Regions from separate parts of the Homo sapiens genome. Here region 1 is linked to region 2. Evidence: fine-mapped expression QTL. A gene starts in region 2. The other region holds a variant in brackets. All regions are shown on one strand. Distances are from middle to middle. Region 1 overlaps NUBP1 (NUBP iron-sulfur cluster assembly factor 1, cytosolic). Region 2 holds the start of NUBP1 (NUBP iron-sulfur cluster assembly factor 1, cytosolic).

The links. PIP is the estimated chance that this variant, and not a neighbour inherited with it, causes the effect. A credible set is the group of variants that fine-mapping cannot tell apart.
Region 1: its variant is the best candidate, but not a certain one, in a credible set for the expression of NUBP1 in lung (TOPMed, PIP 0.77).

Annotation. Positions count from the first base shown.
Region 1 is chr16:10,763,939-10,779,456 of GRCh38, forward strand. It overlaps NUBP1 (NUBP iron-sulfur cluster assembly factor 1, cytosolic), which reads left to right. Exons shown (of 11, transcript NM_002484.4): 10 at 4,011-4,094; 11 at 5,109-5,413. The coding sequence ends at 5,167. It overlaps TVP23A (trans-golgi network vesicle protein 23 homolog A), which reads right to left. Exons shown (of 8, transcript NM_001079512.4): 3 at 11,014-11,158; 4 at 10,101-10,190; 5 at 9,375-9,503; 6 at 7,732-7,860; 7 at 6,334-6,393; 8 at 2,737-5,163. The coding sequence ends at 6,334. Among named protein-coding and RNA genes, the nearest start is that of NUBP1, 28 kb to the left of the region's middle. The variant C/T (reference allele first, on the strand shown) is at 5,619.
Region 2 is chr16:10,736,475-10,751,992 of GRCh38, forward strand. NUBP1 (NUBP iron-sulfur cluster assembly factor 1, cytosolic) reads left to right here and starts at 7,368. Exons shown (of 11, transcript NM_002484.4): 1 at 7,368-7,408; 2 at 7,487-7,591; 3 at 10,669-10,802. The coding sequence starts at 7,390. RefSeq lists enhancers at 1,234-1,283, 7,177-7,226.

The DNA.
Region 1 (15,518 bases), 27 kb after region 2:
CCCAAGGGAGTATCTCAGCCCACAGGAGTATCTCAGGCCACGGGAGCATCCCAACTCAAAGGAGCATCTCAGCCCACAGGAGTACCTCAGCCCATGGGAGCATCCCAGCCCAAAGGAGCATCTCAGCCCACTGGAGCATCCCAGCCCAAGGGAGTATCTCAGCCCACAGGAGTATCTCAGCCCACGGGAGCATCCCAACTCAAAGGAGCATCTCAGCCCACAGGAGTATCTCAGCCCACGGGAGCATCCCAGCCCGAAGGAGCGTCTCAGCCCACTGGAGCATCTCAGCCCATGGGAGCATCTTAGCCTGCTGGAGCACCTCAGTGTACTTTGCTTTTTGGCATCTCAGTCTGCTGGAGTATTTGTCTATTGGAGCATCTCAGTCTGCTGGAGTGTGGCAGTCTATTGGAGCATCTCAGTCTGCTGGAGTATGCCAGTCTGTTGGAGCATCTCAGTCTGCTGGAGTATTTGTCTATTGGAGAATCTCAGTCTGCTGGAGTATGCCAGTGTGTTGGAGCATCTCAGTCTGCTGGAGTATGTCAGTCTATTGGAGCATCTCAGTCTGCTGGAGTATTTGTCTATTGGAGCATCTCATTCTGCTGGAGTATTTGTCTATTGGAGCATCTCAGTCTGCTGGAGTATGTCAGTCTATTGGAGCATCTCAGTCTGCTGGAGTATGTCAGTCTATTGGAGCATCTCAGTCTGCTGGAGTATGTCAGTCTATTGGAGCATCTCAGTCTGCTGGAGTAGGTCTATTGGAGCATCTCAGTCTGCTGGAGTATGTCAGTCTGTTGGAGCATCTCAGTCTGCTGGAGTATGTCAGTCTGTTGGAGCATCTCAGTCTGCTGGAGTATGTCAGTCTGTTGGAGCATCTCAGTCTGCTGGAGTATGTCAGTCTGTTGGAGCATCTGTCTGCTGGAGTATGTCAGTCTGTTGGAGCATCTCAGTCTGCTGGAGTATGTCAGTCTGTTGGAGCATCTGTCTGCTGGAGTGTCTTGGCTGCTGTCGAGGAAAGCTGGGCACAGCCACCAGGGCATTCCTGAGCCCACTTACCCATCAGAGGGGCTGCATCTCCCAGAAGCGTGCCTGCCCGAGTGCCATGCTCGTCTCAGTCACTAGCTAGGAGCAGCCTGGGAGTGGCATTGCCTCAACACAAACGTGGTGGTGGATTTTGGAGCATGGCAGCTGCTGCCAGAGATCCAAGAGGTGTGTCCTTATGGCCATCACAATTGCCACATTTTCCAAGGTTTAATGAAGAGCTAGAAATCTATATCCTTACCCAAAGTCTCCTGATACTAAATGATAGCAACTAACTCCATTAAATACACACACACACACACACACAACCATGCTCTAGCCTGGGTAACACAGGAAGATACCTCATCTCTTAAAAAAAAAAAAAAAAAAAAAAGGAAAAAATTCACCCAGTGTGGTGGCATGTGCCTGTGGTCCCAGCTACTCAGGAGGCTGAGTTAGCAGGATCACTTGAGCCCAGGGAGGTTGAGGTTGCAGTGAGCCATGATCACACCACTGCACTCCAGCCTGGGCGACAGAGCAAGAACCTGTCTCAAAAAAAAATTTAAAAATGGCATGCTTGCTGACCCACCCAAATATGTCCACGGGCCCAGCCACAGGCCTGCCCTTGCCATTGTCTGACAGATCAGGAAGTGACCTTGGGGCTATTAGATCCTGATACGGCTTTTCTTCCAAAGAGCCAGCAACCTCCATCTTCCCACCTCCCTCACACCAAGCCCTGGCATTGGCCCTGGTCTTTCCTTTCAGGGCCACTTTTCACAAAGAAACAAAGTTCCAGGTGGTTCACAAGAGCTAATTTCAAAGCAGAGGAGCCACCAGTGACAGCTGCGAGGCTCATTCTGAGCTGAGAACATTAAGTGCCTTCTAGTGGGCATGGTCCTGTGTGTCAAATGGCACATTGCAGAAGCTCACCTTGAGGGGAAGCCACAGATAGCAAGGCCAGGGAGTGCCAGAAAGGAAGGGGTGGTTAACACTGTCACCCACCCAAGAGGGTGGAGCATGAGGGCCAAGTGACAGACACGCATCTGGCAAGGTCACTGGGGACAGAGTGGGGGAAAACCCACCTTCCTAGGAACAGACAGGAAGGCATGAGGACAGCACTTCAGTCTCCTCTGGGGACATGGTGGCAAAGAGTTACAGATGCCAGCGCTCTGGTGCTATGGGTCCTGGTCCCGGTGTGCTGAGGATCACAGGAAGGGCTGGCCTCAGAGCCCTGCTCCGCCACCACTAGCTGTGGGACTTGGGCTAGTCATTTCCGCTCTCAGCCTCGATGGCCCCGTGTGTAAAATGCAGGTGACAGTGGTGCCTAGTGAGAGGGATCTGCCAGGGTGGGGTGAGAGGATGCCTGGGATCTCTTGGAACAGGGCTGTGCTCACACCAGCTGTTCTGATAATGCTGCCCGTTCTTGGAGAGGTGGGAGCCCAGGGGGAAATGCAGTTAGGAAGGGAAAACACTAGAGCATATATGTGTGTTGGGGGCTGGGGAGCCCTCTGGGGAAGGGAGACCTGGGTGAAAGTCAGGGACAGAAAGTAGCCCCAGCATGACTATTCTGGGATCCCCAACCTCCCAGGTCTGGCCCAGCGAACGTGCACTCAGGGGCCTCCCTAGCGAGTTCCACATGGTCTCATGGGCCCAGCGTTAACGGCGGAGGATGTCCAGGTTCTTGGTGTCTGGAACAAAAAATTGGACAAAACGCACAAAGAAAGGAAGGAAGGAAGGGATTTATTGAAAATGAAAGTCAACTCCACGGTGTGGGAGGAGAACGGGCCTGAGAATAGGGGCTCAAAGGCCCCATTACAGAGTTTTTGTGTTTAAATACCCTCTACTTGAGGTACGCCCTATATAAACGAAAAGGATGAAGTAAAGTTACAAAGTCATTTACGGCATACGTCCTATGGAGAGGACATTTCCTGTTATGGCTCAAGTGCGAATTGGCCTTATGTTCCCTGCCTCTGGACCCTATTTTCCTGACTCACTGGGCCATATGGGCTCCCCATCTCCCACCAACCCCTCCCCACAGGCTTCTTCCCCGACTTGGACTTCCCTGTCCCACAGGGCGACACAGTAGTGAAGTTGAGGAAATGATGAGTGCTAGGTAGGAACCCCTCCTGGGGTTCACCTGAGGCTGGTGACCGGCCATGGGCAGTGCAGTCACTTGCCTGTTTCGCCAGCAGCTCAGGCCTGGGGAGTGGGCAGAGCAAGCTGATGGCAGGTCCACCCACGACTGGGGGCTGGCAGGGCAGACTGGAGGCGAGAACACCCCCATTGACCCCTAGCCCCTTGTGTCCTGTCCACCTGGCTCTGGGATAACATGGTCCTAGAGAAACCTGGGTGTGCATAGGAGGGGACTGGAACAATGGCCACATGGCGGGGAAAGACTAGCAGACTGATAGACACCAGCACAGATGACCTGGAAGATAAAATTATACACAGACAAAGCAGCAGGCAGAATGTGTGTGTCATGTGCTCCCATTCGTATTTTAGGTATATGAGAGTGTGTGTATGTGTGTGCGCACACATGCAAGTGTGCACATTTATATGCGCATAATCTTTCTGGAAAGACACCTAGAACACTAGTAGCCCTTTTCGGACTTGGCCTTTTATGCCATATCCTTTTGCATTCTGTACTTTTTTTAACCATGTGCATTCATGATCCTTTCACTCAAAAGCTAATCTCTTAAAATGCAGACTCCTGGGCCCATGTGGAAGCTGCTGAATCAGTTCTCTGTAGGGCCCTGGAACCTGCATTTTCTGTACACCACCTGATTATTTAGCCACGCTGAAATGCTGGCTGGGGACCCTGCTGGAAGGAAGGTCCCTGAGACCCCACTGGTCTTTTCTACTTTGTTCTTCATTACGAGTGAAGCGGGCTCAAGATCTTCCCATTGTCACCAGCACGGAAAGAGCCCCAAGATCTTGTGGCCATTCTGTTTTCCTCTTGGACTGAATTGTCTTCCGTTTGTTTCTTTTTTAAGGTAAGAATTGTGACAAAGGCCAGTCTTTTTTCATTGACGCCCCAGATTCCCCAGCCACGTTAGCCTACAGAAGTATAATTCAGAGTAAGTATTTCCATGAGTACTAAATGCAGATGCCTGTGGGGCAGGAAGCAACATAAAGGAGCCAGGGGTGTGGAAGGACAGGTGGGTGGTGGGGTCTGTGATGACCACAGAGTGGCCCCCATAGCCGAGGAAGCCAGGAGTCCATGAGAAATCTCTCAATGTGTGAGTATTGTGAATTAATTCATAGTTTAAAAAACATGGTGAGGGTGAAATTTATGGCTTAGGAAATACATCCCAATAAAGGGATAAAGTAATTCATTTTTAAAAGTAACTGATAAAAAAAAAAAAGGCCAGGTGCAGTGGCTCACACCTGGAATCCCAGCACTTTGGGTGAAGGAGGCAGGCAGATCACTTGAGGCTGGTCAGGAGTTCAAGACCAGCCTGGCTAACATGGAGAAACACTGTCTCTACTAAAAATATGAAAATTAGCCGGGTGTGGTGGCGCATGCCTGTAGTCCCAGCTACTCAGGAGGCTGAGGCAGGAGAATCGCTTGAACCTGGGAGGCGGAGGCTGCAGTAAGGCGAGATCGCGCCACTGCACTCCAGCCTGGGCAACAGCGTGAGACCGTGTCTCAAAAAAATAAAAAATAAAAATAAAAACTTTGTTGAGCCAGACCAAACCCACGTGCAGGCCACATTCAGCCAGTGGCAGCCATCAGAGGCCCCAGAGTTAGGGCAGAGGTGTCAGTGTTTGTTAAAGCTGTGGTCTCTGAGTTTGTGGCTGGGTTTTACTTGCCTAGAAGAATGATGTCAAGGGTAAGGAAACAGCATTCCCAGAATCCTCCATCTATAGATGGTCCGAGGAAGGCCGCAGCCACTGGTTATGAGCAAGATGGGTAGTGTGAGGTATTCCGGTCACTTTCAAAGACTCAGGGCATCACAGACACAGGTCTTTTTATGGAACTAGCCAGAGGATTCCACCCCTGTCAAAACACAGCCCTCCCCAGCACAGGACAGGGCTGTCAAGGGGTAGACAAGCCATTAGCACTCTATGCCTGTCGTCTTGTTTTCCAGGAATCCAAGAGTTTTGTAATCTCCATCAGTCAAAAGAAGAGAACCTCATCAGTTCCTGAAACGAGAGAATGTTCAGGACCAAGCAGTTACCGAGCGAGGCACTCACTGGGCAGCACATCCAGCCAGACCCGACCAGCTCCGGGATGGGGTGGGTCACAGCAAAAGGACCAGATGCTGGTGTGGTCCGAAGCCACTTTCTCAGAGACACTTTAATCATTGAGTATTTGTACACTTTTCTTTAGAACATATATAAAGGGCATTCTCTACAAATGTGCCGTTTTAAGAATAAAACCCCCTCAAATCTCTCCCCCGAGGCCTGTTTCACGTAAAAAACAAATGGGTTGTGGGATCGTGGGATTCTGCTGTGTCGGAAGCTTAGTCGATTGTAGAAACTCCCGTTTAAGCCATTTCTGCCTGTGAAGATAAGAAAGCCTAGAAAAGAACCAAAGGGGTGAGTGTGCGGCTTCACTGCAGAACACACAGGCTTGTTTTCAAACACCACAGTCCAAA[C/T]GCTTTTCTTCAGATTGAGGAAAAATCTAAAAGCAACAGAGCTCAGGCTGGGCTTCGTTCTAAAATCACTGCATATGACACAGCTGGGTCAAATCAAAAAGCCCTTGAAGAGTCCTTGAATCACCCAGTAAGACAGAATGTGGGGTCTGTGTAAATTCCCTGTGTAGTAATATGTGCACAGTATATCCAGTAATGTCCAGTGTCATGCAAACCAACTTTCAGGTTTTTTAATTATATAAAAAAGAGGGACAGATGTAAACTCTACGATCATCCTCTTTGCCATGAGGTGCTTGCTCTGTTTGAGACACACAGGATCTGAGACCACGTGGGAGAAGAGTAAATTCCTGTTTTCCCTCCACTCTGGGGCATAAAAGTGGGTGGGTGGGAAACAAGAACAAATCCCCTTGTTCTTTCCCTCCCTTGTCTCTTCCCTCCCCGCCCTTCCCTAGGACCATACATATGATCAGATTTGCACATGTTCAGTGTGAGGAAGGTGTGACCTCGCCCCCCGACCCCCAGCTCCTCACGCCAAGAGCAATGAGGCTGCAAAGCCCAGGGCAGGCCCATTGCCCAGTCTGCTTCCTGCCTGGTCACATGCCTGGCCACCCCAGGGAACAGGGGAAGCCCACCCAGACCCCGGGCCCCTGTGCCCCAAGAGCTGCATTTTTCAGAATTCCCCAGTTCCTCCACACGGGTGCCATGATCCATTTCTCACCTAATGCTGGTGAATCTCCAGCCCCTCGAGGCCAGGCTTCTGAAAGTCACCTGGGCAGGCCTGCAAGGGGAAAAGTCAACCATGGTTTTCTGTCCTTACACGCGAGTGGGGCGATCCTGCTGATGGAAGGCCAGAGAAAACCCACAAAGTACAGAAAACCTGCGGAATTGGTTGCTTGATGTCTTGGCATAAAGCAGTGCTGTTCAAATTTAGGACGGTTCTACCCATTTCAGGATGAACCTGGTCAAATTTCAAAGACTTCTGTCTCTCACTTTTAGAAATATCTATTAAGTTAAAAAAAAAAAACAAAACAAAAACAAGCTGGGCACGGTAGCTCCCGCCTGTAATCCTAGCACTTTGGGAGGCCAAGGCTGGTAGATCACTTGAGGCAAGGAGTTCGAGACCAGCCTGGTCAACATGGAGAGACCCCGTCTACTATAAATACAAAAATTAGCCAGGCATGGTGTTATGCACCTGTAATCCCAGCTACTTGGGAGGCTGAGGCAGGAGAATCACTTGAACCCGGAGCCGGAGGTTGCAGTGAGCCAACACATGCCATTGCACTCCAGCCTGGGAGCAGAGTGAGACTCCCATCTCAAAAAAAAAAAAAAAAAAAAAAAAAAAATTGAAAAACCGTTTGTGACTCTTTCCTTAATTCTATACTTTTAAAAATCACTGAAAACTAACAATGGCAGTCACAAAAGGACAAAAACTATAATTGCACTTATAGGAGGTCCCTAGGGCTGTCAAACCAATAGATACAGAAAGCAGAATGCTGGTTGCTAGGGCTAGGAGGCGAGGAGGAGGGGGAGTTAGTGTTTTGTGGGTACTGAGCTTAAGTTTTGCAAGATGAAAGCAGTTCTGGAGCTGGGTGGGGTGAAGGTTGCACAATAAAGTGGTTATACTTAATGCCACAGAACTATACATTTTAAAATGGTTACAATGGTACATTTTATGTAAATCTTACAATTAAAAAACAAAACTGCCAGGCACAGTGGCTCACTCATGGCTGTAATCCCAGCACTTTGGGAGGCCAAGGCAGGCGGGCTGCTTGAGCTCAGGAGTTCTAGAGCAGCCTGGGCAACATGGCAAAACTTCGTCTCTACAAAAAAAAAAGGCCAGGCATGGTGGTACACACCTGTAGTCCCAACTGTGCCAGAGGCTGAGGTGGGAGGATCGCTTGAGCCCAAGAGATGGAGGTTGCAATAGGCCGCGATCACACCATTGCACTCTAGCCTGGGTGACAGAGCGAGATCCTGTCTCCCAAAAAATATATAAACAATAAAACATTGGCAGCCTGGCGGATATGTTACATTACAAACCGCAGTTGCCAGCAGGCCACCTTGACTTTGACTACCTGGAGAGGAGTGGTCCAAGAGTCAGACCTCAGTTACTCACCGTCTGGAACACTGTCTGGGACAGGAAACTGGCTGTGACCTTGCCAATGTCACTGTTGCCTCCCATCTTACAAAGGATGTAGCCATACAGGTTTGCAGCTTGGAGAGAGATCCCAGCAACCACCAGAGCCTGCACTCAGACAAAGAAAGCAAAGGTCACTTTTTTTTGAGACAGAGTTTCGCTCTGTCGCCCAGGCTGGGGTGCAGAGGCACGATCTCAGCTCACTGCAAGTTCCGCCTCCCGGGTTCACACCATTCTCCTGCCTCAGCCTCCCGAGTAGCTGGGACTACAGGCGTCCGCCACCAGGCCTGGCTAATTTTTTTGTATTTTTAGTAGAGACACTGTTTCACCATGTTAGCCAGGATGGTCTCCATCTGACGCAAAGGTCACTTTCTAAGAGCATTTACAGAAATGCACCTCTCAAGCCACGTAGAAATGCTCTAGCCTGCACCTAAGAATAGTAACAGCCAACATTTACTGAGCATTTGCAAATACCCACGGACACCTCAGAATCATTACAACTGGAGAGGTTGCCACCATCATCATCCCATTTTACAAAGAGGAAACTGAGGCTCAGGAAGACGAAAGCTGCCCAAGGTCACAGAGCTGGAGCGTGGTCGAGCCGGGATCCAAATTCCAGGGCCCGCACTTTCATTAAATGACACTGTTGTTTTACTATCTACAAATATTTTGTTTTCTCTATTTATTGATTTTTTTTAAGACGGAGCCTCACTCTGTCACCCAGGCTGAAGTGCTGTGGCACGATCTTGGCTCACTGCAACCTCCGCCTCCTGGGTTCAAGCGATTCTCCTGCCTCAGCCTCCCAAGTAGCTGAGATTACAGGCGTGTGCCACTACGCCCAGCTAATTTTGGTATCTATAGTACAGACAGGGTTTTGCCATGTTGGCCAGGCTGGTCTCAAACTCCTGACCTCAGGTGATTCACCTGCCACAGCCTCCCAAAGTGCTGGGATTACAGATGTGAGGTACTGTGCCAGCCTGTGTGAGTCCATTTATATGAAATGCCCAGAATAGGCAAATCCACAGAAACAGAAAAATTAATAGGTGCCAGGGCTTGGAGGAACAGAAGCACAGGGAAGCAATGTCAAAAGGGCGCAAGGCTTCTTCCGGTGATGAAAATTTCCTAACATTGATGGTGGTTTTGGCTGTACAACTCTGTGACTGCACTAGAAGCCACTGAATTCCACACTTAGTATTTATTTTATTTTTTGGAGACAAGGTCTCACTCTAGCACCCAGGCTGGAGTGCAGTGGCACAATCTTGGCTCACTGCAACCTTTGCTTCCCGGGCTCAAGCGTGCACACCATCATGCCTGGCTAATTTTTGCATTTTTTGCAGAGATGGGGTTTTGCTATGTTGCCCAGGCTGGTCTCGAACTCCTGAGCTCAAGCAATCCTTCCACCTTGGCCTCCCAAAGGCCTGGGATTATAGGCGTAAGCCACCATGCCAAGCCCCTAATTGTATACTTTAAATGGGTAAATTGTATGGAATGTGTATTATATCTCAATAAACTTGTTATAATTGATCAATCAATCAATAACAAATAACAACAAAAGCCTAGTGGTGCAAACACTTTTTTTGCAGAGACATCAAAGCAATGTGGAAGTCAAGATCTGGCCTTACCAGCCACTTTAGCTTCAAGGAAAATAAGGTGCTAAAAAAAAACACAATCCATATCATGGGGCAGATTATGAGGCCCAGCCAGAAGATTCGTGCTTCAGCTTCTGTGGCAGCAATGCTATTCGGAGAGACCTGTTAAAGGAAAGTAATTCAAATGTCAAAACAAGTGGAAATGGTTGCAAACGAGCGTGCTCACATTTTCATTTATTTTATTTTGCAGATGCTTTTGTTGCTGTGGGATTTTTTGTTGTTGGTGTTGTTTTGTTTTGTTTTGTTTTTGAGACAAAGTCTCATTGTGTCACCCAGGCTGGAGTGCAGTGGCGTGATCTTGGCTCACTGGAACCTCCGCCTCCTGGGTTCAAGTGATTCTCCTGCCTCAGCCTCCCGAGTAGCTGGGAATACAGGTGCCTGCCACCACGCCCAGCTAATTTTTGTATTTTTAGTAGAGACAGGGTTTCACCATGTTGCCCAGGCTAGTCTCAAACTCCTAACCTCAAGTGATCCACCCACCTCCGCCTCCCAAAGTGCTGGGATTGCAGGCGTGAGCCACCACGCCCGGTCTATTTTGGAGACACTTTTGCCACACCCATGTTTCACCAGAGCACCTTGGCAATGGTGGCTTTTGTGTAAGGCAGGAATCAGATATGCACAAAACTCCAAAGGAACCCACAGAAACTTTCCACACCCATTATCCCCGCTCTGGTTAGTTCAGCTCGTCATGGAGAATACCTTCCTGGCTTCAAAGATCCAGTGGCTCTTCCCATCTTCATCTATCTGGTTCCACCATCGAAGGCCCACCAGGAGTCTTCCGGTTACATTCTGAGAACAATAGACAAAGGACTCTGAGCAGGTCACAGGCAAAGAGGCTTATTCACTGTATTGATAAACAAAAGTTCCTTGATTCATTTCAGACTTGTACTGGGAGCAGGAAGAAAAAAGGCCTTGAATTGTAGTGGATTCTCAGATGTCAAGACTTCTAGTTTTCAACTAAGCTTACTTTAAAAAGTTACACACTCCCCCCACAAAACATATATAATTTATATGTTCATATTATATATGTTTTAAATATATGTATTAATTCGTATACAAGTGATATGGTTTGGCTGTCTCCCCACCCAAACCTCATCTTGAATTGTCGCTTCCATAATTCCCACGTGTTGTGGGGGAGACCGGGTGGGAGATAATTGAATCATACAGGCAGTTTCCCCCACACTGTTCTCATGGTAGTGAATAAGTGCCACGAGATCTGATGGTTTTTATAAGGGAAACCCCTCTCACTTGGCTCTCATTCTCTCTCTTTTTTTTTTTTTTTTTTTCCGAGACAGAGTTTGACTCTTGTCACCCAGGCTGGAGTGCAATGGCACAACCTCGGCTCACTGCAACCTCCGCCTCCCGGGTTCAAGTGATTCTTCTGCCTCAGCCTCCCAAGTAGCTGGGATTACAGGCACACACCACCGCGCCAGGCTAATTTTTGTATTTTTAGTAGAGACGGGGTTTCTCCATTCCCCTTACTTTTAAGTGACACTGCTCAGCACTCTTAAGCATGTCTCAGGAGTCTAAACCAAAGTACCTCTTGGTACCACGCACACAGGGGACAAGCCTCGTGTTTCGGAAGTGATGACATCACACGAAAGGGCCTCACCTTCACAGACCAGAAGTCCAGGGACAGGAGGAGCAGCACCATGACAAAACAGCCCACAAAGCTCTTGCTGAACCAGTCGCAGCTCACGTAGGTGACGATGGCACTCACTCGGAAAAACAGGTGGAAAAAGGTGGCCAAGGGGTGTCTAGGAAAGGACCCAGAAGGCGCCCTCACTCCAAGAGCTAAGCGGATGGTCACTGAACTCCCTTTACCACTTCAGACTTTGCTGGGGGTGTTAGCGTGGCTCAATGGAATGTTCTCCCCGGTGCATATGACGCAGAAACTCAGGCTGTAGCCCTGGGGACACATCATTAGGTCAGCAGTCCCCAGACAGTCATGCTGACACTGTTTTTTTTCCTCCCCTTCGAAGAATCCAGTACTTTCCCGCCACTTGACTCCAAATATCACTTGCCCTCTTCGAAACACGGTCATCTTTGAAGTGAAACGTGACAGCAGTCACTGCCTTCCCGCCTAGCAGAGATGACGGCCAGTTCCCTAAAGGTAAAGGTTGGGTTTTTCCACCACCAGTCACTGAGCTCCAAGCTCACACGCAGCCCACGGGGCAGGTGTCTCATGTCATCGGGGAATGCGTGTTCCTGGACAGAGGGAAACATGTGACCTGTGAATGGCAGGTCTAACTCATCATACTTGCTCAGTGGTGAATGGCACGTGAATCCTGGCATTTAATCTAGGGGAAGGTGGTTCTTGTTCACTGTGCCTTTAGACACAAACCTGGCCAGAAAGAAGAGAGGGAGCCAAGGGGAACATGCTCATCCTGTGTAAATTGCTTTTCTTTTTTTTTTTTTTTTTTTTTTGAGATGGAGTCTTGCTCTGTCCCCTAGGCTGGAGTGCAGTGGCGTGATCTCGGTTCACAGCAACCTCCACCTCCCGGGTTCAAGCAATTCTCCTGCCTCAGCCTCCCAAGTAGCTGAGATTATAGGCGCCTGCCACCACGCCCAGCTAATTTTTGTACTTTGAGTAGAAACAGGATTTCAACATGTTGGCCAGGCTGGTTTCGAACTCCTGACCTCAGGTGATCTGTCCACTTTGGCTTCCCAAAGTGCTGGGATTACAGGCATAAGCAACCACGCCTGGCCTTATTTTTTTTATTATTATTATTTTTTAATGTAAGTCTGATATAGGCCAGGCACGGTGGCTCACACCTGTAATGCCAGCACATTGGGAGGCCGAGGCGGGCGGATCACCTGAGGTCAGGAGTTCAAGACCAGCCTGGCCAACATGGTGAAACCCCATTTCTACTCAAAATACAAAAATTAGCTGGGCATGGTGGCGGCTGCCTGTAACCCCAGCTACTCGGAAGGCTGAGGCAGGAGAATCACTAGAACCTGGGAGGCGGAGGTTGCAGTGAGCCAAGATCACGCCACTGCACTGCAGCCTGGGTGAGAAAGTCAGACTCCAACTCAAAAAATAAAAAAATAAAAAAATAAAAACAAGAAAAGAAAGGTTACCAAATTGTATAGAGCAGGTGATGGCAGTGGGTGATGTGGGCCAGACTGAAGACACTTGTGGGTTTCTGTTTCTTTCTGTGGTTTCCCAGTTTAAATAGAGCACACAGGTAGAGAACGATACTCAACTATGATCAGGAAATCAATGGCACGAGCCCAGTTGTTATACCAGAAAGGGTTTCAGATCCAGACCCCAAGAGAGGGTTCTTGGATCTCACCCAAGAAAGAATTCAGGGCAAGTCCATTGAGTAAAGTGAAAGCAAGTTTATTTGGAAAGTAAAGGAATAAAGAATGGCTAGTCTATAGATAGAGCAGTCCTAAGGGCTGCTGGTTGCCCATTTTTATGGCTATTTCTTGATGATATGCTAAAGAAGGGGTGGATTATTCATGCCTCCCCTTTTTCGACCATATAGGGCAACTTCCAGACGTTGCCATGACATCTGTGAACTGTCATGGTGCTGGTGGGAGTGTAGCAGTGGGGACGACCAGAGGTCACTCTCATGGCCATCTTGGTTTTGGTGGGTTTTAGCCGGCTTTTTTACTGCAACCTGTTTTATCAGCAAGGTCTTTATGACCTGTATCCTGTGCGACCTCCTATCTCATCCTGTGACTTAGAATGCCTTAACCGTCCAGGAATGCAGCCCAGTAGGTCTCAGCCTCGTTTTACCCAGCCCCTATTCAAGATGGAGTTGCTCTGGTTCACACGCCTCTGACACAGTGATGGATGAGAATGAAACCCGCACCTCAGGGCAGGGGAGGAAAAGGGAGGGATGAAAGGGACTCTTCCCAGCACCAGGCAGCTGTGCAAACCAGACCCAGTACTGCCAGAGCCAAGATTTTCATGAGAAGTCAGAAATCCAGACTTGCAATGGGAAATCTGATTTTAAATGATGGCCACTAATTCTTTTACTGAAATATCAGTCTGTGTTTCTCACTGGCCTGCGAGCAGTGAGCTTGCAACCTCTGGATTAGGTTACAAAATGTTGTGGGCTTTGGAAAATGCGGGGCCGAATGGGGTGGTCACAGAGATCCACACAGAACTGCAGGGGAAAGCGCCTGCTCATTCTCCCCAAGAAGAAACGGAGTCCGAGTCAACAAACCACAGGTGCCTCTACAACTGTGGGGCTTCCGACTCCCAGGGGAATGTTAAGATTCAGAAGCAGACTTCACAGTGACTTTTTTGCGTAGCAAAGCACCAACTATTCACCAGGATGGGTCTCATCTGAGCCTCTCAGGCTCTTGGCTCTCCTGGTGACCTGAATGAAAACCAACCCAGGAAGTGCACCCGGCTTTTAAGAATTAGACAGGATCAAGCCGGGCGTGGTGGCTCACGCCTGTAATCCCAGCACTTTGGGAGGCTGAGGCAGGTGGATCACGAGGTCAAGAGACTGAGACCATCCCTGGCCAACATGGTGAAACCCCGTCTCTACTAAAAATACAAAAATTAGCTGAGCGTGGTGGTGGGCGCCTGTAGTCCCAGCTACTCGGGACGCTGAGGCAGGAGAATTGCTTGAATCTGGGAGGCGGAGGTTGCAGTGAGTTGAGATCGTACTACTGCACTCCAGCCTGGTGACAGAGCGAGACTCCGTCTCAAAAAAAATAAAAATAAAAATAAAAGAAGAATTAGACAGGATCACCAGGTGTGGTGGCTCACACCTGTAATCCTAGCTCTTTGGGAGGCCGAGGCAGGCAGATCAGTTGAAGTCAGGAATTCAAGACCAGCGTGGCCAACATGGTAAAACTCCGTCTCTACTAAAAATACAAAAATTAGCCAGTTGTGGTGGCAGGTGCCTGTAATCCCAGCTACTCAGGAGGCTGAGGCAGGAGAATCGCTTGAACCTGGGAGGTGGAGGTTGCAGTGAGTCGAGATGATGCCACTGCACTCCAGCTTGGGCAACAGAGCAAATCGCTGTCTCGAAGAATTAGACAGGATCACATAGAACTTAAAAACTTCCTGGAGTGTTCCAGAAGATAAGACTCTTGGGTGTCTCTTTTTGCTGTAAACCTAATTGAGAATTTCCTAACTGAATAAAATTTTGTCCCTTGCCCCTGGAGATAAATAAATGCTCTTTCAATAACTGAAAGTTCTTTGAGGGCACAGACCATGTTTAACACATTTTTATATCCCCAAAAGCACCCAGTATTTAAGATTCTCCGCAAACATATTTGTTATGTTGAACCTTGTAATCGAGTCAGTTAGAATCACTGGAAACATCTGTCCTCTTTGTAGAACAATACAAATGTAAAAAAAAAAAAAAAGATAGAGGGTCGGGCGCGGTGGCCCATGCCTATAATCCCAGCACTTTGGGAGGCTGAGGCGGCTGGATCACTTGAAGTCAGGAGTTCGAGACCAGCCTGGCCAACATGGTGAAACCCTATCTCTACTAAAACTACAAAAATTAGCCAGGCCTGATGGCAGGCGCCTGTAATCCCAGCTACTTGGGAGGCTGAGGCAGGAGAATTGCTTGAACCTGGGAGGCAGAGGTTGCAGTGAGCTGAGATTGCACCACTGCACTACGGAGCAAGACTCCATCTCAAAACAACAAAACATACAGATCTCAAAAAAATGTCAAAGTGTGAGCCAAGTGTGCGCTGACCCATGGTAAAATGTGGAAGTAAATGCATTCGAATAAATCCCTTGCCCACCCGCTTCTTTCTTTTTTCTTTTTGGCTGTGGCTCTCCTAAAATAAAATGCAGAAAAATTTCCAGTTGTTGATAGCTTCCACTTAGCTGGGCCCTGATTAACTCAATGGAAAGTGGTGTTACTCAAACAGAGTTCAAAGCCCAAAGCAAGTAGAAGAGGACGCCTGTTGCCCTTTTAAATGTTGCTTTAATCCTATTTTATGCAGGTTGCTCCATCAGCATCCTCCAAGTCCTCATTCAGTCCCTATCTGGAGTTTGCCCAGCCTGTGCCTCTAGCTAATACTGTGTGATCTCAGACCAGTTTTCCAGAGTTTTGAGAGTCATGGCTTAAGTCCTGTCCACTCGTCTCTGCCATCGGGTCCTCCATCCTCCTGCTCCCCAGCAACATGGAGCAC
Region 2 (15,518 bases):
ATACATATGTCAAAACTTGGCAATTGTATACTTACAATATGTGCAGTTTGTTGTATATCAGGTATACCTCAACAAAGCAGCTTAAGAAATAAACCGGCCGGGAGTGGTGGCTCACGGCTGTAATCCCAGCACTTTGGGAGGCCAAGGCGGATGGATCACCTGATGTCAGGAATTCGAGACCAGCCTGGCCAACACGGCGAAACTCCGTCTCTACTAAAAATACAAAAATTAGCCGGGCGTGGTGCCAGGCACCTGTAATCCCAGCTACTCAGGAGGCTGAGGAAGGAGAATCGCTTGAACCTGGGAGGCGGAGGTTGCAGCGAGCCGAGATTGTGCCACTGCACTCCAGCCTGGGAGACAAAGCGAAACTCTGTCTCATTAAAAAAAGAAATAAACTGATAATTACTAACACCTATATAGGGCTTGAAAGTGCCAGACACTCTAAAAAACTGTTTTACTCATTAACTTGTTTAATCTTCCCAACAATAATTCCTTGAATATTATTGTTGACATTTTTCAGAGACGGAAACTGAGACAGGGAGCCTGAATGCGAACACCTGGCATTCAAGGATCCACGTCCTTTCCAGTTTCTCTCTATATAATGCATCTGAGCCTTGTTTTTCGACTCAATTATGTGTTGAACACCTGGTGTGTATATAGCCCCTTGTTATATTTGCCGGATCCCAGGGAAGAAGCAGAAAATTTTCTACACCTAAACTTAATTTTGTTTCCATTGCCTGAGTACCTTGATCATAGGTGGGGGGAGAGCTCCACCTGCTGGTATAACTAAGGAACCGCAGGCACTTCCTGTGTTTTCTAAGGGTGCTCGCTGACCTTGTTTGAATATTTAAAGTGCCCCTGTCTGGCTGAAATTTTTAGCCGCTGTAACCAGGTTTTAGTCTTGTTTCATCCACTAATCTTTTTTTTTTTTTTGGTAAGGCAGATTCTCGCTGTGTTGCCCAGGCTGGAGGGCAGTGGTGAGATCGCCTGCCAGGCTCAAGCGATTTTCCTGCCTTGCAGCCTTCCGAGTAGCTGGAACTACAGGCGCACACCACCACATCCGGCTAATTTTTATATTTTTAGTAGATACAGGGTTTCACCATGTTTGCCAGGCCGGTCTCAAACTCATGACCTCAGGTGATCCACCCACCTCGGCCTCCCAAAGCGCTGAGATTACAGGCATGAGGCACCACGCCTGCCCAGTTTCCCCCATTTTTAACATCTTGCATTAGTGTGGTACATTTGTCACAGTTGATGAACCAATATTGACACATTATTATTAAATAAAGCCCATGGTTTATATTAGGCCTCACTCTTGGTGTCGTACGTTCTATGGGATTTGACGAATGCATAATGACATGCATCCACCATTACATAGTCACACAGAGCAGCTTCCCTGCCCTAAAAGTTCCCTGGGCTCCCGTTTACCCCTTATCCCCTCCCACCCGCTGAACTCCTAGCAACCCTGATCTTCGGACTCTATAGTTTTACTAATTTATTTTTAAAATTATTTTGAAGTCTATTTAAATCCTTGGCACTTACTTAGCTTTGTAAATTTAACTTTCATTTTTAGTCATTATTCACCATCTTCAGTCAGAGGAACTGAAATAAAAAAATTTAAATTTAAATTTAAAATCTAGTCTTTCAAAATCACAGAACTAAGTAAGTGTAAAGGAAAATTACACAAAATTTCAAATGCTAATTTTTGTTAAGTTTATGGCATTCATACTTCGGAAGTTGTTAGAATGGAAAACCGTGCTCAGACTTCTGGAACGCAGTGTGTTCAGTTCCGCAGGCCAGGAATGGCCTCCATGGGGAGATGCTGCTGAGACTTGGCCTGTCACAGAGGACTGGGCCACAGCCAGATAGGCGAGAGACAGGCAGTGGCCTTTCCTGGCAGAAGGGCCTGTGTGAGTGACAGCAATGAACTAGGGTGCCAGGCAAAGGCCAGCTGTTTAGTGAATAGACTCGATATTCTCAGTGACACTCAGGCTGGAAGGGTCAAAATGAGTCATGCAGGCTACTGAACACCATATGAAAACTGGGCCTTATCCTGTGGGCCATAGGGAGCCACTGACGGTTTATGAGCAGCAGAGTGACTTGGTCTGATTTTCATGGGGAAAGAATGTTAAGACTGAGAAACAATTCAGGGAACTGTGGGAAACATCACTGTGATCCTGGATATCTGGTTTTCCTCCACTTCCAGTCATATAAAACTGTACTTCCTATACTTTTTTAGGCATGACCATGTGACTTTTTTTTTTTTTTGCGACAGAGTTTTGCTCTTGTTGCCCAGGCTGGAGTGCAGTGGTGTGATTTCGGGTCACTGCAACCTCTGCCTCCCAGGTTCAAGCAATTCTCTTGCCTCAGCCTCCCAAGTAGCTGGGATTACAGGCATGCGCCTCTGTACCTGGCTAATTTTTGGTATTTTTAGTAGAGACGGAGTTTCACACTATTAGTCATGCTGGTCTTGAACTCCTGACCTCTAGTGATCCAACCGCCTCGGCCTCCCAAAGTGCTGGGTTACAGGCATGAGTCATCACGCCCAACCTTTTTTTTTTTTTTCTGAGACAGAGTCTCATTCTGTCACTCAGGCTGGAGTGCAGTGGCACAATCTTGGCTCACTGCAACCTCTGCCTCCCGGGTTCATGCAATTCTCCTGCCTCAGCCTCCTGAGTAGCTGGGATTATAGGCGCACACCACCACACCCAGCTAATTTTTTGTGTATTTTTAGTAGAGACAGGGTTTCGCTATGTTGGCCAGACTGGTCTTGAACACCTGACCTGGTGATCCACCCGCCTCGGCCTCCCAAAGTGCTGGGATTACAGGCGTGAGCCATCGCGCCTGGCCTTTTTTTTTTTTTTTTTTTTTTTTTTAGACAAGGTGTCACTCTGCTGCCCAGGCTGGAGGGCAGTACTGTGATAACAGCTCATTGCAGCCTCCAACTCCAGCAATCGTCCTGCCTCGGCCTCCCAAGTAGCTGGGACTACAGGCATGCACCACCTTGCCCAGTTAATTTTTAAATTTTTTGTAGAGACAGGGTCTCACTATGCTGTTCTCCAACTCCTGGCCTCAAGCAATCCTCCTGCCTTGGCCTCCTAAAATGCTGGGATTACAGGTGTGAGCCACTGCACCTGACGTGTGTGACTAATTGTAGCCAATGAAAAGTGGGCAGATAGGTGTCATTTCTAGTGGAAGCATTTCAGAATCAGGGTACAATTCCCCTGGCTTGTGTCCTCTGTGTTCAAAAGGGGCCACAGGAGACGGTGGAGCTTCAGTCTGTGTCCCTGAGGAACCACAGGGAGCAGGAACCTCTGTCCATGAAGTTACATATGGAGCAAATGCCAAAATAAACTTGATTGCCTTGAGCCACTTCAGTTTGGGGATGTCTGTTTTGGCAGCGCAGACTAGCCTATCCTGGCTGAAACAGACACTGTTGCAGGACCAGGAGGAGGAGGGGGCCTGAGCTGAGGCAGGAGGGATGCTGGAAGGCATGGAGTGTCAGTTGTCTATAGCTACCCCAAACTCAACAGTGTCAAACCACCAGCATTTAGCTAGTTCACCAGCCTGTGCATTGGCCAGGTGGTTCTTCAGGACTCACGCATCTATGGCCAGTTGTGGGTCTGGATGGGTGGATCTGTGGGTCTGGATGTGTGGATCGGTGGGTCTGGATGGGTGGATCTGTGTGTCTGGATGTGTGGATCGGTGGGTCTGGATGGGTGGATCTGTGGGTCTGGATGGGTGGATCAGTGGGTCTGGATGGGTGGATCTGTGGGTCTGGGTGGGTGGATCTGTGGGTCTGGATGGGTGGATCTGTGGGTCTGGGTGGGTGGATCTGCAGCTCTTGGCTGGACTCTTCTCATGTGTCTTGGGCCGCTGGTTTAGGAGGCCTTCACTGAGAGCACAGGGGTGGCTCAGCTCAGTTCCAGGTGTTTCACCTCCCATGGGCGAGCCCAGACCTTCTCCTAGCCTGTGTACCTTTAAGTGGCAGGGGAGCTGGAGAGGGATTAAAACAGGCAAAAGCCCCATTACAAGCTTTTTCTTGAATCACATTTGCTAAAGTAAGTCACATGCCTGAGCACAGAGTCAAGGGGTAGGATGGAACCCCCTCCCCGCACGTGGGAGGGCACTGCAAAGTTCAGCAGCCAAGGGCACAGATCCAGACAGGGAGAGAAGTGGGGTCATGTGTGCTACCAGCCTACCACCTAGGGGTGCAGCTGCTGACCTGATGTCTGATTGGATGCAGGGGGTGCTGTGGGCGTCTCTATGGACAACACTGACCCCCATCCCTGTATAGGTACGCCACCCCACTAATCAACAAGAGGAGTCTGTGTCTGTGACACTTTGACCGAGAGAACATGGTGAAAGTGACTGCCACTTCCCAGCTTTGTCATTCCCAGCTGCCATTTAAAGGGACACAGGCTAGACCACTGAAAAATGAGAGAGGGAGGCCACGAGGGGGGAATCAAGGCCAGTGTGAGAGTGAAGCCATTTGAGACCTTCCAGCCAACTCCCAGCTGAATGAAGCCACATTAAGGGAGCCCAGGTGAAACCAGAAGAGTCACAGGAAGCAATAAACCATGGTGGGTTTAAACCACTACATATTGGGGTGACTTGTCACACAGCACTTGATCACTGATGGAGATGGAGAAAACTAAACAAGGCTGATACTCAGATTTACGGCTTGAGTTCTTAGCCCAGGGGTCATGCCCTGTCCAGGTATAACAAATCCAGAGGCAGGAACCGCCTTGAGAAGAAGTTGTAGACGTTTATTTGTTACGCTTGTGGGATGTCCATGCAATAAAATCCAATAGGCACAAGGTAGGATCCACAGATCCGAACTCACGGAGCAAGAGGTGTGGGAGCTGGAGACAGAAGATGGATAGCATCAGGGCTGTCAGTTGCTTGCCCAGGAGGAAGTGGGAAGTGGGACTGGAAGTGGCCCAAGAACAGAGTCTTGGGGAGCACTCACCTTAAGAAGCGGCCCTGGCCAGGCGCGGTGGCTCACACCTGTAATCCTAGCACTTTGGTAGGCTGAGGCGGGTGGATCACCTGAGGTCAGGAGTTCGAGACCAGCCAGGCCTACATGGTAAAACCCCGTCTCTACCAAAAATACAAAAAATTAGCCAGGCGTGGTGGTGGGCACCTGTAGTCCCAGCTACTCAGGAGGCTGACACAGGAGAATTGCTTGAACCCGGGAGGTGGAGGTTGCAGTAAGCCAAGATCACACCACTGCACTCCAGCATGAGCAACAGAGTGAGATTCCATCCCACAAAAATAAAAATAAAAAGGAGAATAACTTGCATCCTGCCCTCTAATATACAGTATAGTGATTAATAGCAAAGGCCCTGTATCAGACTTGGTTAAAAACCCAGTTCTGCTCTTTCTGCCTCTCAGACTGTGGACAAGTAAATCTTTGCAGCCATCTTATCACCTGTAAAACGGAAATGACAACAGTCCCTACCTGATAGGTGACTTCCTCTCTGCTCTCCAGGCCTTTGCTGATGCCCCATCACTCTGGTCCTCTTCTCCCGACCAGACTGTGCTCCAGATGGCAGGGTCCAGGTTAGTCTGGAATCATTGGCATCTAGCCCAGTGCTGGCTGGGACCATGTGTTACTAAGTGCAGGCTCTGCAGCCAGACAGACCAAGTTTATCACCCTGGTTCCCCTGCTACCAGTCATGCGACCTCGGGAAAGTAGTTTACTTTAAGCCTCAGTTTCCTTATCCAAAAATGGAGACAGTAGGACTATGAAAGGACATAAATTAGGTAATTCACATGAAAGCACAAAGATGACAGCTGCCAAACGGTAAGTATTCTACAAAATGCTGGCTATAATTAGTGGTAGTGACAGGCAGCTGATACACTGCTGTTTAATAAATGTTTCCGAGGCCGGGTGCGGTGGCTCATGCCTGTAATCCCAACACTTTGGGAGGCCAAGGCGGGCAGATCACGAGGTCAGGAGATCGAGACCATTCTGGCTAACATGGTGAAACCCTGTCTCTACTAAAAATACAAAAAATTAGCCGGGCGTGGTGGCCTGTAGTCTCAGCTACTCGGGTGGCTGAGGCAGGAGAATGACGTGAACCCAGAAGGCGGAGCTTGCAGTGAGCCGAGATCCCACCACTGCACTCCAGCCTGGGTGACAGAGCGAGAATCCGCCTCAAAAATAAATAAATAAATAAACGTTTCCATATTCTTAGTGTCTGGGGCTAGGTAAAGTTTGTTCACTCATTAATATTCCAGGTGCCAAACCTGTGAGCAATGACACTCCAGTAGCAATGAGCATTTGTGGCATCCACATCTTGGTTTCTGAACTGTTGTCTGCTAAAAAGTAACCAAGGCTCCCTGAAGAAATGACTGCAGCAGGGAGAAGGGATGACTGAAACATCTTGTATCAGAAAGCAAGAAAATGCTCAAAGAAGCTGGATTAGTGCCCAAAGAACATAAGAACTGTCTTGAAGGGGCTTCACTGGCCACATCTGGGGGAAAAAAAATCGACCAGAAAGAATAATAATTGATTATAAAAGACAATTTTAAAAAATCCAGGAATCCATAGTGAGTCTTCGAAAAAAAAGAAAAAAAGAGAGGGTATAAAACTGATATATATTTATCATATATATAATCTATAGTTTTATATATATATATATAAATGCTGCTAAAATCACTGAGTGAAAGGCTGATAGAGAAGAAGATGGTCCCAGAGAGTACCTGTTAATTACAAATGGAAGAAGGAAACATTAAATGGAGAAATGGGGCAGACACCACCTTTAGCAAGCGATCAAGCTTCACATTACCAAAAACGGGACAAACTGACATTATCCAAGTGTGTTCTGCAGGAAAAAAGAAAAATTAACCTTTATCTAATTACAAGGCAAGAGGGAGGGGAGGATTAGACAAATCAAGAATATGGGATATTCTATTACACAACTGGTCTGGACCCGTCAAAATTATCAAGGTGATGAGACCCCCCCTAAAAAAAGAAGGACTGATCTGAATTAAAGGAGACCGAAGAGAAATAACTCCAGGCAGTGAGTGAATCCAGCAGGGGAGGGGGTCTAACAACTGAAATTGAAATATAAACTGTCTATTGGCTAATACTGCATTGGCTAGTACTGCATCGATATTAAATCTCTTGGGTATGAAAATGGCACTGATGTCATGAAGAATGGCTTTGTTCTTAGGAGATGCACTGCAGAAGTATTTATGATAGGAAATCTCTGAAAAGGAACAGACGTTGAGTCCCAGTCTTTCGGCCCAAGGTTCGCGCGTGCGCACAGCCCCCTTTCCGAGACTTATTTCGCGCGGTCGGAGAATCAGATTGTGCCCACAAGGCGGAAATGTACGACAGCGGGTTCCGGTGACCACGAAGGCGGCAAAGGCGACGGAATGGAGGAGGTGCCTCACGGTAAGCTCGCGGAGGGGGCGTGGGTCGCGGGGCGAAAGTGTCGGGAGCTGCTCTAACTGTGGTCTTGTCTCTGCGCAGACTGTCCAGGGGCCGACAGCGCCCAGGCGGGCAGAGGGGCTTCATGTCAGGGATGCCCCAACCAGCGGCTGTGCGCTTCTGGAGCGGGGGCCACTCCGGACACGGGTGAGAAAAGGGCAAGGCCTCAACAGGAACTTAGAGGCGCAGGCCCGGAAAAGGCGGGGCGTGGGAGGGAGGGGGCGGGATCTGCAGAATGACTGACAGCGGCAGGCTAGAAGGTATTGTATTCGGAGAGGGGTGGGGCCCAGAAGGGGCGGGGCGTGGAAAGTGGGCAGGGTGAGGGCGGAGCTTGGAATGACTGACAGGAACGAGGCCTTTAGAAGGCGAGCGCGAAGGACCTGGCGCGGATGGAGGGTGGAGACTGACCGGCGCGGAGTCGAAAGGGACATTAATTAAGAGGGTCGGGGCCAGAGGTTTGAGTGACAATAACAGACCGCAGAGAAAAACGGGATAAGCTTCGAAGTCGGGGAGTCTTCGGACTTACATCCTGGCTCTGCCAGCTACTTTCTTGACACAATTTTCTTCCTTTTGAGGAGTGATTCTCCCACTCATTCAGCAGAAATGTGTTGATCGCCTCGTAGGTTTGGTGCTGTCCTGGGGACACAGCTGGGGATCAGGCGTGGTCACTGCTCTAGTGGAGTTTAGCTTTACTGGGGAAACAAACACGTGAGCTAGCAACTAAACCACCGCAGCTTTAAGTGCTGTGAAGCACAGATTCCAGGATGAGAGGACCCAGGGAGCCTGCTCAGAAGGACCTTAAAAAGCAGGAGGCAGGAGGACAATATTTTTTTTTCTTTTTTTTCCCCCTTTTTTTTTAGACAGAGTCTTGCTGTGTAGCCCAGACCAGAGTGCAGTGGTGTGATCTCGGCTCACTGCAACTTTCACCTCTCAGGTTCAAGCGATTCTCGTGCCTCAGTCTCCCGAGTACCTGGGACTACAGGCGCCTGCCACCACGGCTGGCTAATTTTTATATTTTTAGTAGAACCAGAGTTTCACCATGTTGACCAGGTTGGTCTCGAACTCCTGACCTCAAGTGATGCATCTGCCTGGGCCTCCCAAAGTGCTGGGATTACAGGCATGAGCCACTGCACCTGGCCAAGGGGGAGAATCTTGAAGGAGTTCAGAGAGAGACTTGGATTTGATTCTTGGATCCATGCGGTGTGACCTTCAGCAATAGTCCTAACCTCTCTGAGCTTCTGGTTCCTCATCAAAAATGGAGACAGGCCGGGTGCAGTGGCTCACGCCTGTAATCCCAGCACTTTGGGAGGCCGAGGCGGGTGGATGGATCACTTGAGGTCAGGAGTTCGAGACCAGCCTGGCCAACATGGTGAAACCTGTCTCTACTAAAAATACAAAAATTAGCCAGCATGGTGGTGCATGCCCGCCCTCGAGGCTGAGGTGGGAGGATCACTTGAACCCGGGAGGTGGAGGTTGCAGTGAGCTGAGATCGTGCCACTGCACTCCAGCCTGGGTGACAGAGTGAGACCCTGTCTCAAAGAAAAAAAAAAATGAAGAGAAAAATAGTTATCTCTGTCAATGCAATGGAGAGACTGAACTGAGCCTCAGTGGAGGTTTATTGGGCCAGAGCTTGAGGGCGTGCCCTGGAAAATACAAGTGACAGAAACATCTGTGGCCTGTGCTCGATGGAGTGGTTCCAGAAGGCTGGTGTTTATATATTTCATTAAAAGGGGAAAAAGCATGCAGGAAAAAGTGCAGTAGGCCTCGTGGCAGGTAGTTACATTCTTGTGAGGTTTTAATTCGTGCCCAGTATATCTACACTATTCAGAAAATAAAGTAAACATTCAAAAGAGGGAATAAAGGAAGAATTAATTAGGCAGACGTCTCAGGGTAGGAGAGGAAGGACTATCTCATCCCATCTTTGTTTGGCATGTGGGAGGATAAGCTTGTAATGGACATGGTCAGTGTGGCGTTTAACAGACATCAGTAATAGGGAAGGAGTTAGACTGAGGTTACAGTCCTAAAGTTACAGTTGGCATGTCCTTGTTTATGGGAGGATACTCATCTTCAAAGATTTAGGGGCCAGCAAAGGAGTTCCTTAGGAGCAACTTGTGAGGGCAGTCATCCCACAATGGATTGCATGGGGCCTTTGGCCTTTTGCAGGTGTCTGGTTAATGTAGAATGCTTTGACACAAGGTTGGGAAGTAACAGCTGTCTGTTGATGGGGAGGAGGACAGCAGTGTTGGGAGGTTTCCAGGCTTAACTTTCACTTGAGTTTGGCCAGTCATGAGACTTTTTAATTTCCTTTATACCTCGTGTATTGTTTTAAGGATTTGAAATAAGATAGTTTCATTGGCAGATACTTAGTATGTGCCTGCTGTCTATCAGAGTTTCTCAACCTCAGCACTGCTGACATTTGGGGCAGGATCACTCTTTGTTGTGGGGGGCTGTCCTGTGCATTGTAGGACATTTAGCACAATCTGGGCTGTACCCATTAAATGCCAGCAGTACCTCTCCTGTGACAATGAAAAGTGTCTCCAGGCTGAGCATGGTGGCTCACACCTGTAATTCCAACACTTTGGGAGGCCAAGGTGGGTGGATCACTTGAGGTTGGAAGTTCGAGACTAGCCTGGCCAACATAGAGAAACACCGTCTCTATTAAAAATACAAAAATTAGCCAGGCATGGTGGCAGGCACCTGTAATCCCAGCTACTTGGGAGGCTAAGGCAGGAGAATCGCTTGAACCCAGGAGGCAGTGTTGCAGTGAGCCGAGATCACGCCACTGCACTCCATCCTGGGCGACAGAGCAACACTCTGTCTCAAAAAAAAAAGAAAGAAAGAACAGTGTCTCCAGACATTACCAAATGTCTCTGGGGGATTTTGTCCCCAAGTTGGTGACCATTGCTGTTTGCAAAGTTCTCTTCTGGAGCTGGGAATACAGCACTGAAAGCTTCAGACAGTTCCTACCTTTGTGGAGACTATGTTCTAGTTGGGGGAGACAAACGTGTAAACCAATAAATGAGACCCCTTCAAGTGTGATAATAGCCTTATTTTCTTCCTAGCACTTATTTCTACCATTGTCTGAGAGGTATTTCAGAGGATCGTTTTAAACAGCCCCAGGACTAGTACTAGGACTAGGACTTAGCTCTTTCTAGTTGACTGGAAGCGTGACATTCGAGGTTTGGTGTGGGACCTCATCCCCTGAACTTTGGTTTTCTTTGCAGCTATAGAGGAAATCAAAGAGAAAATGAAGACTGTAAAACACAAAATCTTGGTATTGTCTGGGAAAGGCGGTGTTGGGAAAAGCACATTCAGCGCCCACCTTGCCCATGGCCTAGCAGAGGATGAAAACACACAGGTGAGACCTCAGGAACCACTGGGAGATGCTCATTTTGTCTGAGGGTCGTGATGGCTACTAAATAACTGATTCCTAGGCCAGGCGCAGTGGTTCATGCCTGTAATCCCAGCACTTTGGGAGGCCAAGGCGGGCAGATCACTTGAGGCCAGGAGTTTGAGATCAGCCTGGCCAACATGGCAAAACCTTGTCTCTACTAAAAATACAAAATATTAGCTGGGCGTGGTAGCGCAGGCTTGTAATCCCAGCTTTTCGCGAGGATGAGCCATGAGAATCGCTTGAGCCCAGGAGGCAGAGGTTGCAGTGAGTCAAGATTGTACCAGTGTACTCCAGCCTGGGTGGCAGAATGAGACTGTCCAAGAAGAAAAAAAAATGATTCCTTATACTAAGTTGAATTGGCCTCTTTGGAATCTCAATCCGGCAGAGAGCAAAGAAATGCCCAGTAGTCAAATGAAGCATTTCACTGGATTCCCTAGCCAAGAAAATGGCTAGCAGATGTACATCTGTCCTTGCATGTGGATAGTTTATTACATTACGTTCACGCTTCTTTTTCCTCTTTATTAACCCCTTTTAGCTTTTCTCTAAGCCAGGGACCTGCAAACTATAGCCAGTGGGCCAAATCCAGCCCATCTCCTGCCTTATGGCCTTTGAACTAAGAATGTTCACATTTTTGAAATGTTTTTTGTTTGTTTGAGACAGGATCTCACTCTGTCACCCAGGCTGAAGTGCATTGCTATGATCAGGACTCATTGCAACCTCTACTTCCTGGGCTCATCAAGCTATCCTCCCACCTCAGCCTCTCAAGTACCTGGGACTACAGGTGCTTGCCACCATGCCCGGCTAATTTTTGGGTTTTTTGTAGAGATGAGGTTTTGCCATGTTGCCCAGGCTAGTCTTGAACTTCTGAACTCAAGGCGTCCCCCTGCCTCGGCCTCCCAAAGTGCTGAGATTATAGGCATGAGCCACCGTGCCTGGCCTAAAATTGCAATTTTTAAATTAGTACCTAAGTACCTACATATGATCCTTGATTTTGCCCACAAAGCCTAATAATATATTTGCTGTTGGCCCTTGTGGAAAATTTTTGCTGGCCCTTACACGAGTTTATTCATTTCCACCCATGCATACAGACGAGCATGAAAACTCAGATTACCCACTGCTGCCCTCTGGATCTCAACTTTAATAAAAGGGGTTGGTGGGTCGCTAAGAGCACACACTCTGGAGTCAGACAGCCCAAACTCAGGTCCCAGCTCCATCTACACCACTGCTGTGACCTTGGGCAAGTTACCAGGCTTACTCTGCCTCCGTTTTCTCATCTATAAAATGGGACTCCAAGGACTGAGTGAGATGGCACAGTAAAGCACTTAGCACGGGGCCCGACGAATAGTCAATGCTCAGTAAAGGTCTGTGATGGCCACCATTTTTATTACTTTATTTCACTCTCTGGATATGAAGGGATGATGATTACATCTGCCTTAGAGATGAGTTTGTAGCCTACCCAAGGTATAGTACTGGGCAGATTCAAAATACACTTGTTGGGCAGGGCATGGTGGCTTACACTGTAATCACAGCACTTTGGGAGGCTGAGGCAGGCGGATCACTTGAGGTCAGGAGTTTGAGACCAGCCTGGCCAACATGGTGAAACCCTGTCTCCACTAAAAAATACAAAAATTAGCTGGGCATGGTGGTACGTGCCTGTAGTCTTAGCTACTCGGGAGGCCGAGGCATGAGAATCGTTTGAACCCAGGAGGCGGAGGTCGCGGTGGGCCAAGATTGCCCTACTGCACTCCAGCCTGGGTGACAGACAAGACTCCATTTAAAAAAAAAAAAGGATATAGATAGATACACAGACACATACACACACACACACACACACACACACACACACACACACACACACGTTGATTCGTCATTCTGTGAGTCAGCGATCTCTTGCCATTTGAGGGTCAAATCTGTACTGGCCTAGTGGGCTGGCCAAGAAATCTGCTTTCTCAGATTGTCTGTATCGTTTAGAAGAATCTTTGCTTTTCGAAGCTGTCAGGAATATTCCTAAACAGCTCACTGGAGATGGGCTTTCATCTCACCACTTGCAAGTAACCACTTGTGAGTAGACAACTGTTTACATCCTTCACTTTCATGTAATTACGTTCTGAAGTCTTTGCTGCATGCCTGTCTAGACTTTGCAGTATACAGAAGGAAAGCACACCATTCAGTGTGGAAATATGGCTAGATCAGCTGTATTTTTTTATGCAGTGGTGGTTTAAAAAAAAAAGAAGTCAGCATTTAGGAAAGTGTGTTTTCCCCAGGCAGACCTACTCATGACAGTGACATCACTATCTGCAAAGTGTCAACACATGGAAAATGCTGAATATGTCTTGATTAAAGTCAAGCAGCACAGATTTCTCCCTGCCCTAAATCCAGCAGGGTGGTGGGACATGCCCTGACCTTTTTCTGCCTGCCATCTGGTGGAAGCTTGGCTCTAACTCTGTGCAAGACCATTCCATGTTAGCGCTTGAGGCAGGCAGGCGCCTGTCATCTCATTGGCACAAAGGGCCTTGGATCAAGAGAGAGCAGAATTAGAAAACACCCCTGACGAGTCACAGGCTGCCCAGGGAGTGTGTAAGTTGTGGTGAAGGCAGAAGGAGCCTCTGTAGCATAAGCCTGAGCCATGAGACAGCCAAGAGTCATACACTGTCTTCCACTGCAAAAGTCACCGACTCCCAGCCTGGGCTTCAAAGTGAGACCCCTGTCTCTACAAAACATAAAACATAAAAAAAGTTAGCCAGGTGTGGTGGTAAGCACCTGTAGTCCCAGCTACTCAGGAGACTGAGGTAGGAGGATCACTTGAGCCTGGGAAGTCAAGGCTGCAGTGAGCCGTGATTATGCCACTGCACTCCAGCCTGGGCAACAGAGTGAGACTCTACCTCAAAAACAATGAATAAATAACAAGTCACCAACTTCCATAAATTAAACTTTTTTTGTTTGTTTTTTTGAGACGGAGTCTCATTCTTTTGCCCAGGCTGGAGTGCAGTGGTGTGATCTCAGCTCACTGCAACCTCCACCTCCCGGGCTCAAGCAGTTCTGCCTCAGCCTCTGGAGTACCTGGGATTACAGGCGTGTGCCACCACACCCAGCTAATTTTTGTATTTTTAGTAGAGACAGGGTTTCACTATGTTTGCCAGGCTAGTCTCGAACTCCTGACCTCAGGTGATCCGCCTGCCTCAACCTCCCAAAGTTCTGAAATTATAGGCGTAAGCCACCACACCCAGCCACCATAAATTAAACATTTATGATCTTTGTGATCTGAAAGGCAAACTGTCATAACAAGGTCAGCACTAGGTGTTTCAGGACTGAGTGTGCGAGGCCCTCCTCTGGGTCCTGGGACTGCAGAGCTGAGAGGGGCCTTGATGACCCCGGAGCAGTTGTCTCACAGATCAGAAGCCCAGACAGCCAAGGCTTCGAAAGCAGAAGCAACTTGTGCAAGGACTAAAAGTTAGGACTAAATCCCTCTTCCCCTACCCTCCTCATCAGGGGCAGTTTGGGGTGCTGAGTAAAGGAGACGCTTTGGGTCCCGACAGCCTTGCAGCATCTCCACCTTCTGCAGCAAACGCGGCCTCTTCCCATCAGCTGCAAACACAGGCCCAGAGGTCCTGCTGGGAGGAACGCAGGCGCATTGCTCTCAGCTTTGCTTTTCTGGCCTAACCTAAGCAAAATTAAATGGACAGATTTTGGGGTAGTAATAAGATCAACAGGAAGTCTGAACAGACAGGACCCAGGGCCGTCCTGGCCATCTGGGTAGCAGGAGCTTGTCAACAGCCTCTCGGGCCTGCCACGGGAGTGAGAGAGTGCGCTGGATCTGCTTCTCATATCCTTACATCATTTCGCTCAAGATTCACTCCCCAAGGGAGTGAAATTCCTCTAAAGGGAATTGATTAAATTGTTCCCTAAAGGAAGGGCATGGAGACAGAGTCACTAGAAACCTGAGAGTATCGAGGAAAGTCTCTATCACAGTCATAGTGATAGTGTCATTTCCCCGTGGATCATTGACACATCAGTCCCAAGTATCAAGGTCCGGAGAGAGCAAGTCAGGTTTTCCGATGATGTCGCTCTGCTGTTCTCCCCGGATGGCTCCATAGAGGGCACCTGAGGCCAGTGCTGGTCTGTGGATGGCGTTTTCCCGTGCACAAGTTTGAGACAGCGCTGGGTGCTGAGGAAGTAGGAGGCTGGGTTTGTTGAGAGGATTGAAGAGGGTGGCAAGAAACTAATTCAGGGCAAGTTAAAAAGTGACGCGGAGGTGCAGCACTTTGGATCCGAGTCATTGCAGCTTTCAAGATGAATACTAGCCCTGTTCTCAGAAGGTTCCTGAAGGCCGTCTCAGACCTCCTGTATCAGAGGGGAAGGCTTGGGGTGGAATGGGGTCGCCTGAAGCTGCACCTGAGTCACAACTAAAGAGCTTTTCCAGGTTTCCATCTTACTTTAAGTTTCTGTTCTGTAAGTTTAGCCTAAACCATCATTCACCTTCAGGATCAAAGGAAAACAGGGCTTGGTCAGGGTTCAGCTAGAGGCTCCACTCTGGTCCTCCACAGCAGGCCCGTGGTGTACTGGAAAGAGCCCCAGTTGGGGCCGAAAGACCTCAGTTTATGTCCCAGCTCTGTTCCCTGCTTATTGAACTGGTCCCCTCTGAACCTCAGTTTCCTCCTCTGTAAACCAGAGATAATGATA